Regions from separate parts of the Homo sapiens genome. Here all the other regions are reported to be linked to region 1. Evidence: microRNA targets listed by miRTarBase, many of them from high-throughput screens and not tested one by one. Region 1 holds a microRNA gene; each other region holds the end of a gene's coding sequence.

Region 1 (4,067 bases):
CCGGCGGCTGGCTGGTACTGCCCCAGTGCCAAGACCTCTGGCCAACTGGGCGCAGGGTGGGGGTTGTAAAAATCCGGGGTGTTCCCTCGGCTCTAAGAGCAGGCGTAGCTCCTGTGCAGCCGGCCAGCCCGAGAACAGGAGATGCAGGTGCATTTTGTCCTGGGTGCCTCCTGACCAGGGCCACCCCTCAGAGGGTCCTAAGGGAAAAGCTGACACCTCCTCCCCAGCCACAGGGGGCTGCCCTCTTCCTCCCTCGTGGCTCACCCGGGGCCCCACTCATGAGCGGCCATCACCGGCTCTAGTATCTGAGGAATCTTGGGCCATGCCTTGGGCTGGGGAAGAACTCTTGCTTCCTCTTCCTCCCTCACCCTGTGTAGCAGTGGACCACTGAGTTGTGTTGGTTTCATCTCCATGCTCTCCTTGGCCTTCGGCTTCTCCACCCTGACAGCAGCCCTTTCCTGGATCTTGCATGGCGGGCACTGCTGCCAGACACTTCACCTGTGATCTTCCAGTTACCCCTAGAAACCCACAGGATACGGCGGGGCACAGTGGCTAATGCCTATAATCCCAGCACTTTGGGAGGCTGAGGCAGGTGGATCACCTGAGGTCATCAAGACCACCTTGGCCAACATGGTGAAACCCCATGTCTACTAAAAATACAAAAATTAGCCAGGTGTGGTGGTGTGTGACCGTAGTCCCAGCTACTCGGGAGGCTGAGGCAGGAGAATCACCTGAACCCTGTAGGCAGAGGTCGCAGTGAGCCAAGATTGCGCCACTGCACTCCAGCCTGGGCAATAGAGTGAGACTCGGTCTCCAAAAAAAAGAAACCCATAGCACAGGGACTATGATCCCTGCTCTGCCACTAACGGAGGCAAGCATCCAACACACAGGCTACCTTTGTCTTTTCAGGTTCACCTTCTCACCCCTGGAACGCCATTGTCCTTTGTCTCCTTCCCACCTTGCTGTCCACCCAGCAGGCGCAGGTCCTGTGCAGCAGGCCAACCGAGAAGCGCCTGCGTCTCCCATTTTCGGGCTGGCCTGCTGCTCCGGACCTGTGCCTGATCTTAATGCTGCAGGAACACCCAGGATTTTCACATCCCCCACCCTGCGTCCAGTTGGCCAGAGGTCTTGGCACTGGGGCGGTACCAAGTGCAAGGAGCTGCCTTACACCCCCTCACCTGTTGGCATTTGTTGAAAGAAGGTGTTTCCTGGTGCCTTGTCTCAGCAGAGTCCAGGGCTGTCTCCAGAGTGGTGTCCTGGGAAGAGCTGACCAAGGCATATTAGGAGAAGGAAAGCGGCTGTGGGCTGTGTTCTGTGCTGGGGATTTTTCTTTTTTTCTTTTCTTTTTTTTTGAGACGGAGTCTCACTCTGTCACCCAGGCTGGAGTGCAGTGGCATGATCTCAGCTCACTGCAAGCTCCACCTCCTGGGTTCATGCCACTCTCCTGCCTCAGCCTCCCCAGTAGCTGGGACTACAGGCGCCCGCCACAACACCCGACTAATTTTTTGTATTTTAGGTAGAGACGGCGTTTCACCGTGTTAGCCAGGATGGTCTCGATCTCCTGACCTTGTGATTCGACCGCTTCGGCCTCCCAAATTGCTGGGATTACAGGCGTGAGCCACCGCGCCCGGCCCGGGGATTTTCTTTAGGACATGTTCAAACACATGTGAAAGCAGAGAGAATGGTACCAAGGCTACCATCTATCCTTGTGGCTGAGAGCTACACCTGGAGCCACTGAGGACTCGGCAGGGAGCCCTCAGAGGGCCTCTTGGGGTCACACTGTATCCACCGATGGGGCCACATCCCTTCCCCCACTCTCCCCAGTTTGATACCTGTGTGAATAGATACCCCTTTTTGCCTTCTTGCTCCAGGTGCTAACTTTGAGTACATCATCGCAGAAAAAAGAGGGAAGAATAACACCGTGGGGTTGATCCAACTGAACCGCCCCAAGGCCCTCAATGCACTTTGCGATGGCCTGATTGACGAGCTCAACCAGGCCCTGAAGACCTTCGAGGAGGACCCGGCCGTGGGGGCCATTGTCCTCACCGGCGGGGATAAGGCCTTTGCAGGTACGCGCGGCAGCAGAGGCCTTTGTGTCTGGGCAGATGTGGGAGGCACGTATGGCCTTGGGAGAAGCCTCCAGACAGATTTGCGCCTCTGTGATGGCAGAGGCATGCGACTGGGGACTTCCTCAAATATCGAGTGAAGACGGTCATGGGAACGGCTTGCATGAGCAGCTTTGTGTATGCCAGAGAGCTGCATGTGCTCCACCAGCAAAACAGCTTCTTCAAAGGGGTTTAGGTCCTTGGCAGTCAGGCTTTGTGTGTGTCAAGGGCTTATGCCCTGACAAATATGCCTAGCCTCTGTGGGCGCCTCCCTTGCACCTGCTGCCTGCCTCAGGGCCCCTCTGCGTGACTTCTGTTCTAGCTGGCATTACAGCGTCCCTACAGCTGTCCACGTGGCCTGGTGTCAGCCGTGCCCAGCAACCCCACTGCCTGTGTCTGGTGTGCTCTGAAGTTCCTTGTTGGTCTGAGAGATATAGGATGGGTGGGCTCTCTGCTCTCTGGTAACTGGAACCTCCTTTCCACTCCTGCTAGCTGGAGCTGATATCAAGGAAATGCAGAACCTGAGTTTCCAGGACTGTTACTCCAGCAAGTTCTTGAAGCACTGGGACCACCTCACCCAGGTCAAGAAGCCAGTCATCGCTGCTGTCAATGGCTATGCCGTGAGTGTTGCTGCCAAGAGTCTCCTCCTCTCGTGGTTGAAGGAACCGTGCTGTGCATACACAGCATAACAGATTTTTATTTTGAAGAGGCCTTTAGTTCCCAGGCCAGCAGCCTCCTTTCCTGCCTCATGGTGCTAAAGAGCCAGGAACTGTGTGGAGAGGACACCTCCTGGCATCTGCTTTTTTCGTGGCTGTTCACCTGACAGCTTCTCCCCAGCAAGCCTCTCTTCCAGGGTGGGGGAAGAGAGGTGTTGGCTTTGGCTACATCTATAAACTAGCTTCTTTTGCTCCCCTTGAAAGCTCTGTGTCCTGGGACTATTTGAAGTGCTGAGACTGATCTTGGCCTATAGGGAAGGCAATGTGATCATTTCATGACGCTCCCTGCCGTGTAAGCCAGGGGTCTGCGGATTGTGATCATTTCATGACGCTCCCTGCCGTGTAAGCCAGGGGTCTGCGGATTGTGATCATTTCATGACGCTCCCTGCCGTGTAAACCAGGGGTCTGCGGATTGTGATCATTTCATGACACTCCCTGCCGTGTAAGCCAGGGGTCTGCGGATGGAGTTTTCCCGGCACAGCCACACCCACCTGTGCACCTAGTCTCTGTGGCTGCATTTCGGCCACAGCAGCAGAGTTGAGTCGTGGCAGCAGAGCCTGTAAGACCCTCATGGTCCTTTACAGGATGTTTGCCAGCCCCTGGTAAACAGCATCAACCATCTGTAGTTAACTTATCATAACAATTATCTAGTTTGGTGCCACCATGTTAGTCTTTGTCATACCCCCAACACTGTTTCTTTTAAATGGAAAATTTGAATAAGCAAGCAGAGTGATTTCTGACTGGGTTCCCCTGGTAAGACTCTCCTGATGCCGAATGTTTTACAGTTTGGCGGGGGCTGTGAGCTTGCCATGATGTGTGATATCATCTATGCCGGTGAGAAGGCCCAGTTTGCACAGCCGGAGATCTTAATAGGAACCATCCCAGGTAAAGAGTGACACTGTCTCTGGCATAGATGCCTTAGGTAATTACTCAAAATCTGCCTGTGTCTCAGGGCCCACAGCTCATATCTGACCAGAGGCCCTGGATGGACAGCCCCATGGCTGGTCAGTGGTCCCTCTGTGGACAGCCACGGAGGCTAGAGTGGTTGTGACAGAGCTTGGGGGGGGCCTTAGAGTCCCGGGACTGTGACTGTGCCCACATCTGATGGTGTTGGGAGAGGCTGGTCCTGGGTAACGCTGGCTTCTAACCATGACAGTTCTTGCTTGTGATTCGTGTCCATGGCAGAGAGGGAACATGGTGACCCTGGGTGGCACTGGGAGCTCTGCACACTGCCATCTCACTGGCC
Region 2 (4,067 bases), not on the chromosome of region 1:
AAATCCAACTTCAGAGCTGCTCCTATCAGGTCGGTGGACGTCTACAATGTCATGTGCAATGTGGTGGGCATCACCCCGCTGCCCAACAACGGATCCTGGTCCAGGGTGATGTGCATGCTGAAGGGCCGCGCCAGCACTGCCCCGCCTGTCTGGCCCAGCCACTGTGCCCTGGCACTGATTCTTCTCTTCCTGCTTGCATAACTGATCATATTGCTTGTCTCAGAAAAAAACACCATCAGCAAAGTGGGCCTCCAAAGCCAGATGATTTTCATTTTATGTGTGAATAATAGCTTCATTAACACAATCAAGACCATGCACATTGTAAATACATTATTCTTGGATAATTCTATACATAAAAGTTCCTACTTGTTAAAAAAGATACAAACCTTGTTTTTCCAGAAGGTAGGAAAATCCTAGCTTTCCATTTGTGCAGTTATATGTCATTTTCTCCTTTCTTTTCACGTTACTCAGGATGAACTCTCTGAGCAGGGACCTGCTCCTGCAGCAACCAAACTTGGAGTGGTTATTGCAGACAGACGTGGCTCTGGGCCCCTCTCTGTCCCACCTTGCACAAAGGACCCCCTCAGACCAGGCCCTTGTCTGTGCCCTGTCCACACCCAGGAGCCATCCTCAGTGTCTGTGGCCACAATCCTGTACTGTTCCTTCCATCCCTGATAAAAGGAGGTCTACATGAAAGCAAAAGCTACTGTCTATTTCTGACCCAGCTCATGGAATTTTTTCATCTTATACTGAGCTCCAGAAAGGACGTAACTTAGCATGGATCACCAATCAATCAAAAAATAAATAAATCACTAAGGATTGGAGAACTCATAGAACAAGGTGAAAGACATGAGTGCCCTCCCAAAGTCTGAGTGCACGAAAATTTCTCTCTTGCCTTGAGGAGCAGAAAAGCTTCTGATGGACATGGGCTTCTGTGAGACTTATCACACATAGTGTATCGTGGCATGAAGCCCGGCACATAGCAGGCCCTGCATATTGATGGACAAATGGATGGCCTGCCTGCCTTCCCTGTCCGTTCACCTGTGCAAAGGCTTCCTCAGACATGCCACTCTGTGGCTCCCAATATAGGGTGCAGACAAGAGCAATCCCTGACATGACATTATAGCCTGGGAAAGGGCTGGCTCACTGATGAGAATGTGGAGGCATCAGCAAGGATCTCGGTGGGTTGCTCAGAGAGGTGATGCACTAAGCCTTAATCCTGGACACCAGTACCCCTGCAGCATGGCTTGCTCAACAACAGTCTTTGAGTGGCATAGAATTCCAAAGAAAATGGTGCTGGGTGGAGAATGGAGAGAGCATGATGGAGCAGAGTCCCAGTCACTGACCAACTAACTGGTCGTTTGATTAGGAAACAGTTTGGCCAAAGTACCACCTTTGAGACCTAAGTTCTTTTGATACCTTTGAGAAGAGCCACTGAGCCTGAGTTGAAATATTTTTAGCTTAGTCATCTGTGTTTGCTATAGGAGAAATTGTAACACAAGAAATAACTCCTTTTTACATGATCATTTATATCTATATACATATATATACTTGCATACACTATCACTGCATTAAAAAATGAGTTTGGGCTGGGCATGGTGGCTCACACCTATAATCCCAACACTTTCGGAGGCCAAGGAGGGACAAACGAACCCTTGAGGCCAGGAGTTCCAGACTAACTTGGGCAACACAGGGCGACCCCCATCTCTACAAAACATAAAAGATTTTTAAAAAATTAGCCAGGCATGGTGGCACATGCCTGTGGTCTCAGCTACTTGGGAGGCTGAGGCAGGAGAATCATTTGAGCCCAGGAGGTCAAGGCTGCAGTGAGCTTTGATCACACCACTGCACTCCAGCCTGGGCAACAGAGCAAGACCCCATCCTCCACCCCCCCCAAAAAATAGAAAGAAAAAAAAAGTTTGCACTAATTGAGGTACATCTGCAAGTGAGACTTTTTGTCAGGAAAAGGCAATATATCAGGTCTCCTCAGGACGATGGAGGCCTTATATGGTGTGTTACCTTGAAAACTGAATATCAACGTTCACCTTGATTCAGGAAAGCTGGGTGCTGTCTCCATGCCATGAATCATGAGAGCAAAGGATCACTGCTTAAAAATACTGAATTTACCTTCACAAAAGATTTCTAAAGATTTATGTAATGTGTTTTAAAAGCGCCAGTAAACCATCGGATCAATTGGAAAGAAGGCAACTCTTCAGCCTTTGTTATCTAGCTGAAAACAAATGACAACTTTCAAAACATTGGCAGTAGTTGTTGAAAAAGACGTCTATTGTTCAAAGTTTCTTTCTCCTTAAAGGACGGTGTTCCAATGAATTCAGTAGAGCCCACTTTCCTCCACTGTGGAGGAAGAATCCCTAAGAGATACTCAAATGATTAAATTAAAATTGGATCATCAAACTCAAGAGAGGCATAAACTTAGACACAGTCTTGCATTTTTGTCTTTCCTGAACTCTTCTGCCATTTTCCTCCTTCACTCGTCCTGAAAATCTGCAAGTTACATAATAAAACTTTAGATATTTGTCTGACAAAGTGTAATTACTCAACTGAATAAATGACTGAGAACAAGTTACAAAAGGAATCATGAATCCTGGTAAACAATAAAGAAGATTCAGACACTGAGGGAAAAAAATAAAGCTTTTTACTTAAATAATGCATATATTTTTTATGGCTTAATTATTTGGTGAAAATTTGTTCCCTTTTATTTTTGTTTTAAAATTACATTGTTCTCCTTAGGAAAATTCCACTTTCTCTAAATGTATTTTTTTCCATAGGACTAAAATCTGCTAGGAATATGTATAGACACTTTGTCTCCTGGATTACTTTTCAACTTCACGGCTGATTCCAGGACAAAGATAATTGGGTTGGTCTACCGAGGACAAATGAAAGGAATGAGCCTCAGATTAAAGATGAGATGACTTTTTAATAATCGCCATTCTGACTGGCATGAGATGGTATCTCATTGCGGTTTTGATTTGCAGTTCTCTAATGAACAGTGATAATGAACTTTTTTTCATATGCTTCTTGGCTTCATAAGTGTCTTCTTTTGAGAAGTGTCTGTTCATATCCTTTGCCCAGTTTTTGATGGTGTTGTTTTTTCTTGTAAATTTGTTTACGTTCCTTGTAGATTCTGATATTAGACCTTTGTCAGATAGGTAGATTGTAGAAATTTTCTTCCATTCTGTAGGTTGCCTGTTCACTCTGATGATAATTTCTTTTGCTGTGCAGAAGCTCTTTAGTTTAATTAGATCTCATTTGTCAATTTTAGGTTTTGTTGCCATTGCTTTTGGTGTTTTAGTCATGAGGTTTTTGCCCATGCCTATGTCCTGAATGGTATTGCCTGGGTTTTCTTCTAGGGTTTTTATGGTTTTGGTTTTACCTTTAAGTCTTTAATCTATCTTGAGTTAATTTTTGCATAAGGTGTAAGGAAGGGATCCAGTTTCAGCTTTCTGCACATGGCTAGCCAGTTTTCTCAGCATAATTTATTAAGTAGGGAATCTTTCCCCATGGCATGTTTTTGTCAGCTCTGTTGAAGATCAGATGGTTGTAGATGTGCAGTGTTATTTCTGAGGTCTCTGTTCTGTTCCATTGGTCTATATATCTGTTTTGGTACCAGTACCATGCTGTTTTGGTTACTGTAGCCTTGTAATATAGTTTCAAGTCAGATAGCATGATACCTCCAGCTTTGTTCTTTTTGCTTACAATTGTCTTGGCTATACGGGCTCTTTTTGGACGATTATTAAAAAGTCAGGAAACAATAGATGCTGGCGAGGCTGTGGAGAAATAAAATGCTTTTACACTGATGGTGGGACTGTAAATTAGTTCAACCATTGTGGAAGACAATGTGGCAATTCCTCAAGGATCTAGAACCAGAAATACCATTTGGCCCAGCAATCCCATTACCGGGTATATACCCAAAAGATTATAAATCATTCTACTATAAAGACACATACACACATAGGTTTATTGCAGCACTATTTACAATGTCAAAGACTTAGAACCAACCCACATGTCCATCAATGACAGATTGGATAAAGAAGATGTGGCACATA
Region 3 (4,067 bases), not on the chromosome of region 1:
CTGTCAGCCTTCACGGAGGTCTGGCCTCACAGGCCAAGGGCTTCTGGCTCACAGGGCTCCCTGTGCTGTGGGGAGATGCCAAGGTGATGGTCAGGACACAGCAGCCACTTGGAGAAGAGCCCCTTATGCTGACTTTTGGAGCCCACTCCCACTTTGCTCCCTCTGGCCTCTTCTTCCCTTTATAGCGGTTGGATTGCAGCCCTGTCTACACTGGATAATCATTCCCTGGCCATATCAGTCATCATGATGGTGGTGGCTGGCTTCTTCACCCTCTGTGCCGTGCTCTCAGTCTTCCTCCTGCAGCGGGTGAGTGGTGTGGGCAGGGCTGACAGCAAATGGGAGGAGGCAGGCAACCGTTTCCTGCCCTTGCCACGAGATGTTTTTCACCACTGCAGTTGGGCATCCTAGGCCCCCAAAGGTCCAGTACCTTTCTCCAGGGATCTGGGTGGGGGGTCAGGCAGTGCCAGGCTTCTGGTGACCCCTTTGGGAGTATAACCTGGATGGCTGGCTTCCTGGTGGGCCCAAAGGACAGGCTTCTCTCACCCCACCCCTCTTCGCCAGGTGCACTCCCTCTACCGACGGACAGGGGCCAGCTTCCAGCAGGCCCAGGAGGAGTTTTCCCAGGGCATCTTCAGCAGCAGAACCTTCCACAGAGCTGCTTCATCTGCTGCCCAAGGAGCCTTCCAGGGGAATTAGTCCTCCTCTCTTCTCTCCCCCTCAGCCTTTCTCTCGCCTGCCTTCTGAGCTGCACTTTCCGTGGGTGCCTTATGTGGTGGTGGTTGTGCCCAGCACAGACCTGGCAGGGTTCTTGCCGTGGCTCTTCCTCCTCCCTCAGCGACCAGCTCTCCCTGGAACGGGAGGGACAGGGAATTTTTTCCCCCTCTATGTACAAAAAAAAACAAAGCTCTCTTTCCTTCTCTGGTGATGGTTTGGTAGGATTCTTTTGTCTCTGGAAGCAGTGGGACTGAAGTTCTCTTCGTCCTGTGCACACACAGACACCCCCACACAGTTGGGATCACAGGCTGACCTGGGCCCATCCCAGCTGGAGCTTTCTGCCAGGGTCCTGGGCCTTGACTCCCCCACCCTGCAGGCCTGGCCTGAATCTGGCTTCTTAGACACAGCCCAGTCCTTCCTGCCTGGGCTGGGAATAAGCCTCTCACAGGTTCTGGTGGACAGATCTGTTCCCCAGGTCACTCCAGTGGTCTCCAGGCTTCCAGAGAAGGCTGGTTGCCTCAAGCTCTTCTCTGCCTCATAAACGGATCCAGAGAAGGCTGGTTGCCTTAAGCTCTTCCCTGCCTCGTGTTCCTGAGAAACGGATTAATAGCCCTTTATCCCCCTGCACCCTCCTGCAGGGGATGGCACTTTGAGCCCTCTGGAGCCCTCCCCTTGCTGAGCCTTACTCTCTTCAGACTTTCTGAATGTACAATGCCGTTGGTTGGGATTTGGGGACTGGAAGGGACCAAGGACACTGACCCCAAGCTGTCCTGCCTAGCGTCCAGCGTCTTCTAGGAGGGTGGGGTCTGCCTGTCCTGGTGTGGTTGGTTTGGCCCTGTTTGCTGTGACTACCCCCCCCCCTCCCCGAACCGAGGGACGGCTGCCTTTGTCTCTGCCTCAGATGCCACCTGCCCCGCCCATGCTCCCCATCAGCAGCATCCAGACTTTCAGGAAGGGCAGGGCCAGCCAGTCCAGAACCGCATCCCTCAGCAGGGACTGATAAGCCATCTCTCGGAGGGCCCCCTAATACCCAGTGGAGTCTGGTTCACACCCTGGGGGGTGTGTCACTGTGATGGGACACGTAGGAGTCCACCCTTAAAACCAGCACCCTGTCCCTCGAGGCTGCCGAGTGGGTGTGTGGACTGGGGTGCCTTCCCACAAAACTAGCCTCCGGCTCTGGGCCCGAGACAGCCGCAGGCCCCAGCCACTGAATGATACTGGCAGCGGCTGGGGTTTTATGAACTCCTTTCTGGTATTTTTTCCCCTCTATGTACAAATGTATATGTTACGTCTCAATTTTTGTGCTTAAGTAAAAATAAAAACATTTTCAGACAACACGGGTCCACATGTCTGGTGGACTTGGGAGGACGGGGCAGCCCACAGGATTAGGGGCTGGGCGCCGCTGCTAAGATTGGAGAGCGGGGACAGTTAAGATGCAATAAATAGGTCAAGGCCCTTCCTCAGAAAAGTGAAAAGCAGCTGGGAGGCCTGGGAAGCCAACGCGGCCTCTTCCAAAGGCGCCTTCTCGTGCCAGTAGCTCTCCTTTCAGAGCTGCGGGTCCTGGGGAGGGGCCCTGGGAGCCTCCCGGACGCCGTCGCCCCCACACACGCCCGCTCCGCCGCCCGCGCCCTCACGTGGGCGATCTCTAGACGCCTCTGCGCCCGCTAGGAGTCCCCGGAGACCACGCCGGCCGTCCTCCGTTGTTAACTTCTAGGCTCGCGGGGCCTCCGTATCCCCACGTGGGCCCTGCAGGAACTGGCGGGGCGCGTGACCCGGCGAGGCCCAGAGACAGGGGAGGGGCGCCGGGAGCCGGGCGGATCCGCGTCCCCGATGCGCGCTGCATTTCCGGCGGGCGGCGCTGGGGGCAGCGTGGAGCCACCCAGTGCTCGGCCCGCCCCGCAACCCGCCGGAACCGCCGCCCGCAGCGAGGAAGCGCCCGCGCGGGCGCAGGCGGCCGGAATGGCGGGGCCCGGCTGGGGTCCCCCGCGCCTGGACGGCTTCATCCTCACCGAGCGCCTGGGCAGCGGCACGTACGCCACGGTGTACAAGGCCTACGCCAAGGTGGGTGCCGGCCGATGGCCCCGTGCCCGCCCGAGCTAGCTCGGCTGGTGCCGGCCGGGGAGACTCTGAGAGGTTAGCGACAGTGTGGGAATAGTTAGGGGCGGGAGGCCGGCCTCGCCCCAGCTGACCCTCGGCGGAGGTTGGAGCCGACTGCCACGCTTAGGTCTTAAAGAGCGCACCTGCACCCACCTGCAGGGTCAGTGGCTGAAGAACAGGCTCAAAACAGGTTACCTGGTGGGCTGGGAGGAGTCTGGGACTGGAGCCAGTTGGGAGGCAGAGTGGGCGGTTCTAGAACCCTGAGTGACATGCCTCTGCCGGGAGCACTCCAGAATGCAAAGAAATGGATCAGCTAGCCGAGGGTTGGAGAAGACCAGGCTGAGGCTGTGTCGGGAAGCCAGGATTCCAGAATCAGCATTCCTCACTGGCCTCACAAGGGAAAGCTGGGAAGCCCGGTGCTGGTGTGCAGTAGGTAGACCCGGGGAGGGGCGGGGTGGGGGAACAGAGGGAACCAGATAGAGCCTTTCCAGTCAGACAAGGGTCCTGGCCCCCTCAAGGCAGAGTCCCCAAATCTCCTGTCTCGCAGAAGGACACTCGTGAAGTGGTAGCCATAAAGTGTGTAGCCAAGAAAAGTCTGAACAAGGCATCGGTGGAGAACCTCCTCACGGAGATTGAGATCCTCAAGGGCATTCGACATCCCCACATTGTGCAGCTGAAAGACTTTCAGGTGTGAGCCTGGGGCGGGGCCGCTGCCAAAGGGAGCTGGAGAAGGGACACTCTCTTCAGGCCGCCTCTCTGCCTCTAAACACAGTGGGACAGTGACAATATCTACCTCATCATGGAGTTTTGCGCAGGGGGCGACCTGTCTCGCTTCATCCATACCCGCAGGATTCTGCCTGAGAAGGTGGCGCGTGTCTTCATGCAGCAATTAGGTAAAGGCCTGTGACACCAGCCTGACACTCTGTCCCTTGTTCTCTGCCCCCCACCATCCCACCCCTCCCCCAGGCTTAGAGCCTTGGCACGCATTGCAGCTGCCTCCTGCACAGCCTGAAATTTTATGGTCCTGTTTATCTCATACACTCAACCCTTGCTCAAGGACGCTGTGGGAGAGATGAGGGGGTAACCCCTCTGTGGGGTGTTCAGGCTTCCATACATAGAACATAATATAAGGACCTTGTAGAACATTCCAGAGTCCTGTAGGTAGGACTCAAGTGCTGTGCCAAGGAAAAGAGCAGGATCTCAAGGGCTGGGGCATCCAGAGAAGCTTCTGAGAGGTGGGGAGACTTGTGAAGGGG
Region 4 (4,067 bases), not on the chromosome of region 1:
AAAAATCCTTGGGCCCTTAAAAAATACACTATATCTACTCTGCCTGTGCTCTGCAAAGCCTGGATAACAGTACATCTGTTTACAGCATAGTTTACTCAATATTTTAAGCCCACTATTGAGATCTGCTGCTCAAAAAAAAAAAAAAAAAAAAAAAGATTCCTTTCAAAATATTACTGCTCATTAACAATGTACCTGGTCTACCAGGCATGGATCCATGAAACAAAGGGATAAGTCATTTTCAGAGTGGACAAAGCAGGACAGTCCAAGATTTCATCATGCTATAAGAACAGCACACAATTTAAAACTTGTTTATTTCTGGAAATTTCCATTTAATATTTTCTGACTGTGGTTGAGCGTGGCTTACTGAAACTGTACAAAGTGAAACAGCAGATAAATGGGAACCAGGGAACTGCTGTACTGAAGATCTCCAGTGTCCTGAGACAAAAAAGAAGGAAAGGATGGAGGGAGCCAGGGAAAGGAAGGAAGGAAAGGAAGGAAAGGAAAGAAAAGAAGGAAAGGAAGGGAGGGAAGGGAGGGAAGGGAGGAAAGGAAGGGAAGGGAAGGGAGAGAAGGGAGGGAAGGGACGGAAGGGAAGGGAGGGAAGGGTATGGAGATTGGAAAGTATATTGTATCTAGGTCACTTTATAACAAGTTATTCTTCAACTAAGTGGGTTAAAACAATAAACATTTATTATATCACAGTTTCTGTGAATAAGGAATCCAGGCACAGCTTTGCTAAGTCCTCTGGCTTAGAGTTTCTCAAAAGTCTCCAATCAAGGTGTCAGCTAGGGTAGAGTCACCTCAAGGTTTGACCAAGGGAAGATCCACTTCCAAGATCACTCGTAAAGCTGTTGGCAGGCTTCATGTCCACGCTGGCTGTTGGCCAGAGACATCAGTTCCTTGCCTGGTGGGCCTCTGAAAGGGCAGCTCACAACATGACAGCTGGCTTTCCTCAGAGCAAGCCAGGGAGAGAATAAGAAGGAAGACAAGCAAGATGGAAGCCAGAGTTTTGGAATCTAATCTGAGAAGTGATACCCCATCACTGATGATATATTCTATTATTTAGAAATGTGTCATTTTAGCTCCACCCACACTCAAGGACAGGAAATTACACAAGGCATTAAATACCAGGAGGCAAGGATCACTGAGGACAATATAGATGCTGTCTACCATGGAACGGAAAAGCAAAAGCTGTTTTTTTCCTAATACGTAGACAATGCCAAAGAATCATACTAAATGTTTAGAATTAACAAGTCTAGCAAGGTTCACTGTAAACAAAACTCAGGAAAAATCAGTTTTATACCATACAGAAGCAACAAACACTATAAGGAAATTTACAACACCAGCATTTACAAAAGAATTAAACGTCAACATTGATCAGCTGAGTAACTGTTGAAACAGGAAATGGGTACTACAGTCTTTGAAAATTTTGATACTTTTTTTAAAGTATCAAATACTTGGGAACAAATCTAACAAAAGATTTGTAAATCTTCACAGAAAAAAGCAACTTTTTTTCTCATTTATTTCAAATAAAATGGAAAGGTAAACCATGGTCATGGACTAGAAGACCTAATATTGTAGACAGCAATTCTCTGCAAATTGATTTATACATATAATACAATCAAAATTAAAAAAAAAAACTCAACAGGGTGAGTGTGTGTCTCTGCATGTGTGTGTGTGTGTATGCAGGCTTGACAATCTGATACCAAAATTTGTACAAAGACGAAAAAGTCAAAAAAATGGAAAAAAATGTTCAGCCATATTAATAATCATGGAAATGCAAAATAAAACCATAATCAGACACTATTAATAACCACCACATTGACAACATTTCAAACTCTGACGATAGCAAGTTTCGGTGAGGATATTAAACAAAAGGAGTTCTCATACACTGTTAATGGGAGCGTTAATTGGGACAACCACTTTGGATAACTGCTATTATCTATTCATCAATTTCACACTTAATTGGTGCTTATGTTTTATGATCTCTCCATAAATATGTTATATTTTTTTAAAAAAGTAATCTTAAAAAAAAAAGGAAAGAAAACAACCACATATACTTCCAAAGACAAGCAACAGGAAAAGAGATTCTGAAAAATAAACTCTACCTCGGAGTGAAAATAGAGCAGAAAGAAGAATTATTCTTGGCTCTAAACAGAATGCCAAAGTCTGAGAATGAATCCTGAAACACTAAAAATCTCCCATTACATTATGTATTTGGAATGTAAGGTGGTACCCAAACCAATAGGAATACTTTGGTCCATTTTTAAAAGCAAAATCTGCATCAGATGTAGGAGGTATTTTGCTACAAGAGAACAGGAGCAAATCTTAAGTGCAAGGAAAAATCAGTCCAAGGAGTACTGTAAGCCAATTAGTGGGTGTTGCTCTCAGCTTTCTGGGTAATTGCGCTCAGAGGAAGACTTTCAGATGCTCCATAATCCAAGTGCACCACAATTTTACAAAAGGACAAAGCAATGCTAAAAAATTGGCAAAGTGCTCACCTAAAGACCAGTCAGTACAAAAGCCCAAATCTTACTTTTCATTTTCTCATAGAAATAAATGACTGATGAAGACCATTGGCAAAGGCATTTGAGGATGCTCTCTAACTGATCTAAATAAATGCCAAAAAAGAAACACGAGGTATGGCATTTTTAAAAAAAATAAGTTTATTTACATTTCACTTACTTTCAAAAGGATGAAAATATATTTATAAAGGAAGTAGTCTCATTTTATTTAACCCATTTGCATTTGACTTAGAATCAGAGGTCTAAGGGTACCCAAAGAATTTATCCAGTTCAACTTTCCATTTTTAGCTAAGACTGAAATTATACCATTGCAGGCAGATGAAAATCTACTCCACTTATAGGTAAACATCAACTAATATATATGTTATAAAAACACTAGCTTTAGTAAAATCTGTCATAACATCCAATAAATCTGCAATAAAAGACATAGCTATCACAATATAAGACATTAAAAAATTTATGTGCAGCAATAAAAACTGGAATTTATACAGGAGAAATGATAATTGGCTACTAAGTCAATAGCATCACAGTAACAGTACCCAGTGTCTTTCTTATTCAAGTATACACGCTATTTTTAAGACTTAAAATTAAGTCTTAAGGCTATAATAAAGATATCAGTAGCTAGGATGTATATACACAATTATTTAATAAACACCATGAAAAAGAAAGCACAGAGATAAAAATACCCTTAAATTCTGTAGCAATTACAAACATGTTAACATTATCACTATATATTTGACTCATAAATTTTAACCAATTTATACACTTTAAAACTAGCATTGAGTTTTATAAAAATACTAATGGCCAAACATTTTTAAAAACTAAGGCAATCTTTATCTATATTTCAGTAGTCTTTGTTTTATGCTTTTCTTTCTTCCACCACCAAAGTCTTTCTCCTAACCACCATTCACTCAAAACAACAACAGTGGTCTCTAGCACCTGTTGCTGTGGAAGTATTATTACATTCGAAAACTTCTAGTTCTTTGAAATGGTTGGAAAGGCTTCTTTAGTGCCCACATTAGCAGCTGTGGTTTCGGTTTGGGTTTTTCAGGAAACAGAAGTGCTGCACTTTCTGGTGTAGGAAATCGTTCTTGATAGACTTCAGGATAGGATTTCTGAAACTAAAAAAATGAATGGTCCAAGAAGAGTAAAAAAAGACACATAAAAGCCAATAAAATTTGGCAGCCAAATTTTAAGAGTTTCTGAGCCTGTATTTTCCTGTTTTTGTTTATTTTTGTTAAAACATTTCATTCCAATTTCTATAGAGCTAATCCATCTTTCCTTTGATCTAAGCTTCAAATAAGTTCCCCTTTTAATCATGTTTCTGAAAATTCCCCCCACTGCCAACTATAAATAGACCTCACTTTTTATATATTCACAAGTAACTCTGACTTCAAAATAACTTCTGTTCTACACAGTTAAATAAAATTTTGGCCCAATTACATTTCATCATTTCTCTGTTTCTCCAACTCAGCCCCACCAGCTTCTGCTCAAATGGAAGAGGGAATATTCTGGTGTATATTACTTTGTGAAAAGCTTAAA

Evidence for each region. The annotated mature microRNA hsa-miR-3944-5p reads UGUGCAGCAGGCCAACCGAGA and lies in region 1 at 988-1,008, shown strand. An mRNA with a match to its seed (bases 2 to 7 or 8) in the 3' UTR can be bound and repressed. Matches are read on the target gene's strand: a 7mer-m8 pairs with bases 2 to 8, a 7mer-A1 pairs with bases 2 to 7 and ends in A, and an 8mer does both.
Region 2: the mRNA of ENPP6 is a reported target of hsa-miR-3944-5p. The part of its 3' UTR that is shown has no 7-base or 8-base seed match.
Region 3: the mRNA of SCAMP2 is a reported target of hsa-miR-3944-5p. Seed matches in the 3' UTR shown: 7mer-m8 at 745-751.
Region 4: miRTarBase lists DEPDC1B as a target of hsa-miR-3944-5p. Seed matches in the 3' UTR shown: 8mer at 2,986-2,993.

What each region holds. Positions count from the first base shown.
Region 1 is chr10:133,368,562-133,372,628 of GRCh38, reverse strand. MIR3944 (microRNA 3944) reads left to right here and starts at 966; the gene lies at 966-1,073. ECHS1 (enoyl-CoA hydratase, short chain 1) reads left to right here. Exons shown (of 8, transcript NM_004092.4): 2 at 1,872-2,069; 3 at 2,598-2,725; 4 at 3,607-3,706.
Region 2 is chr4:184,087,311-184,091,377 of GRCh38, reverse strand. It overlaps ENPP6 (ectonucleotide pyrophosphatase/phosphodiesterase 6), which reads left to right. Exons shown (of 8, transcript NM_153343.4): 8 at 1-2,672. The coding sequence ends at 201. All of the region lies in intron 1 of LOC124900826 (a long non-coding RNA gene), which reads right to left. Among named protein-coding and RNA genes, the nearest start is that of ENPP6, 130 kb to the left of the region's middle.
Region 3 is chr15:74,841,712-74,845,778 of GRCh38, reverse strand. SCAMP2 (secretory carrier membrane protein 2) reads left to right here. Exons shown (of 9, transcript NM_005697.5): 8 at 186-306; 9 at 562-2,049. The coding sequence ends at 696. It overlaps ULK3 (unc-51 like kinase 3), which reads left to right and starts at 2,623. Exons shown (of 16, transcript NM_001099436.4): 1 at 2,623-2,775; 2 at 3,359-3,499; 3 at 3,584-3,704. The coding sequence starts at 2,674. RefSeq lists a silencer at 2,142-2,861 and enhancers at 2,124-3,035, 3,104-3,629.
Region 4 is chr5:60,594,269-60,598,335 of GRCh38, forward strand. It overlaps DEPDC1B (DEP domain containing 1B), which reads right to left. Exons shown (of 11, transcript NM_018369.3): 11 at 2,644-3,646. The coding sequence ends at 3,485. Among named protein-coding and RNA genes, the nearest start is that of DEPDC1B, 100 kb to the right of the region's middle.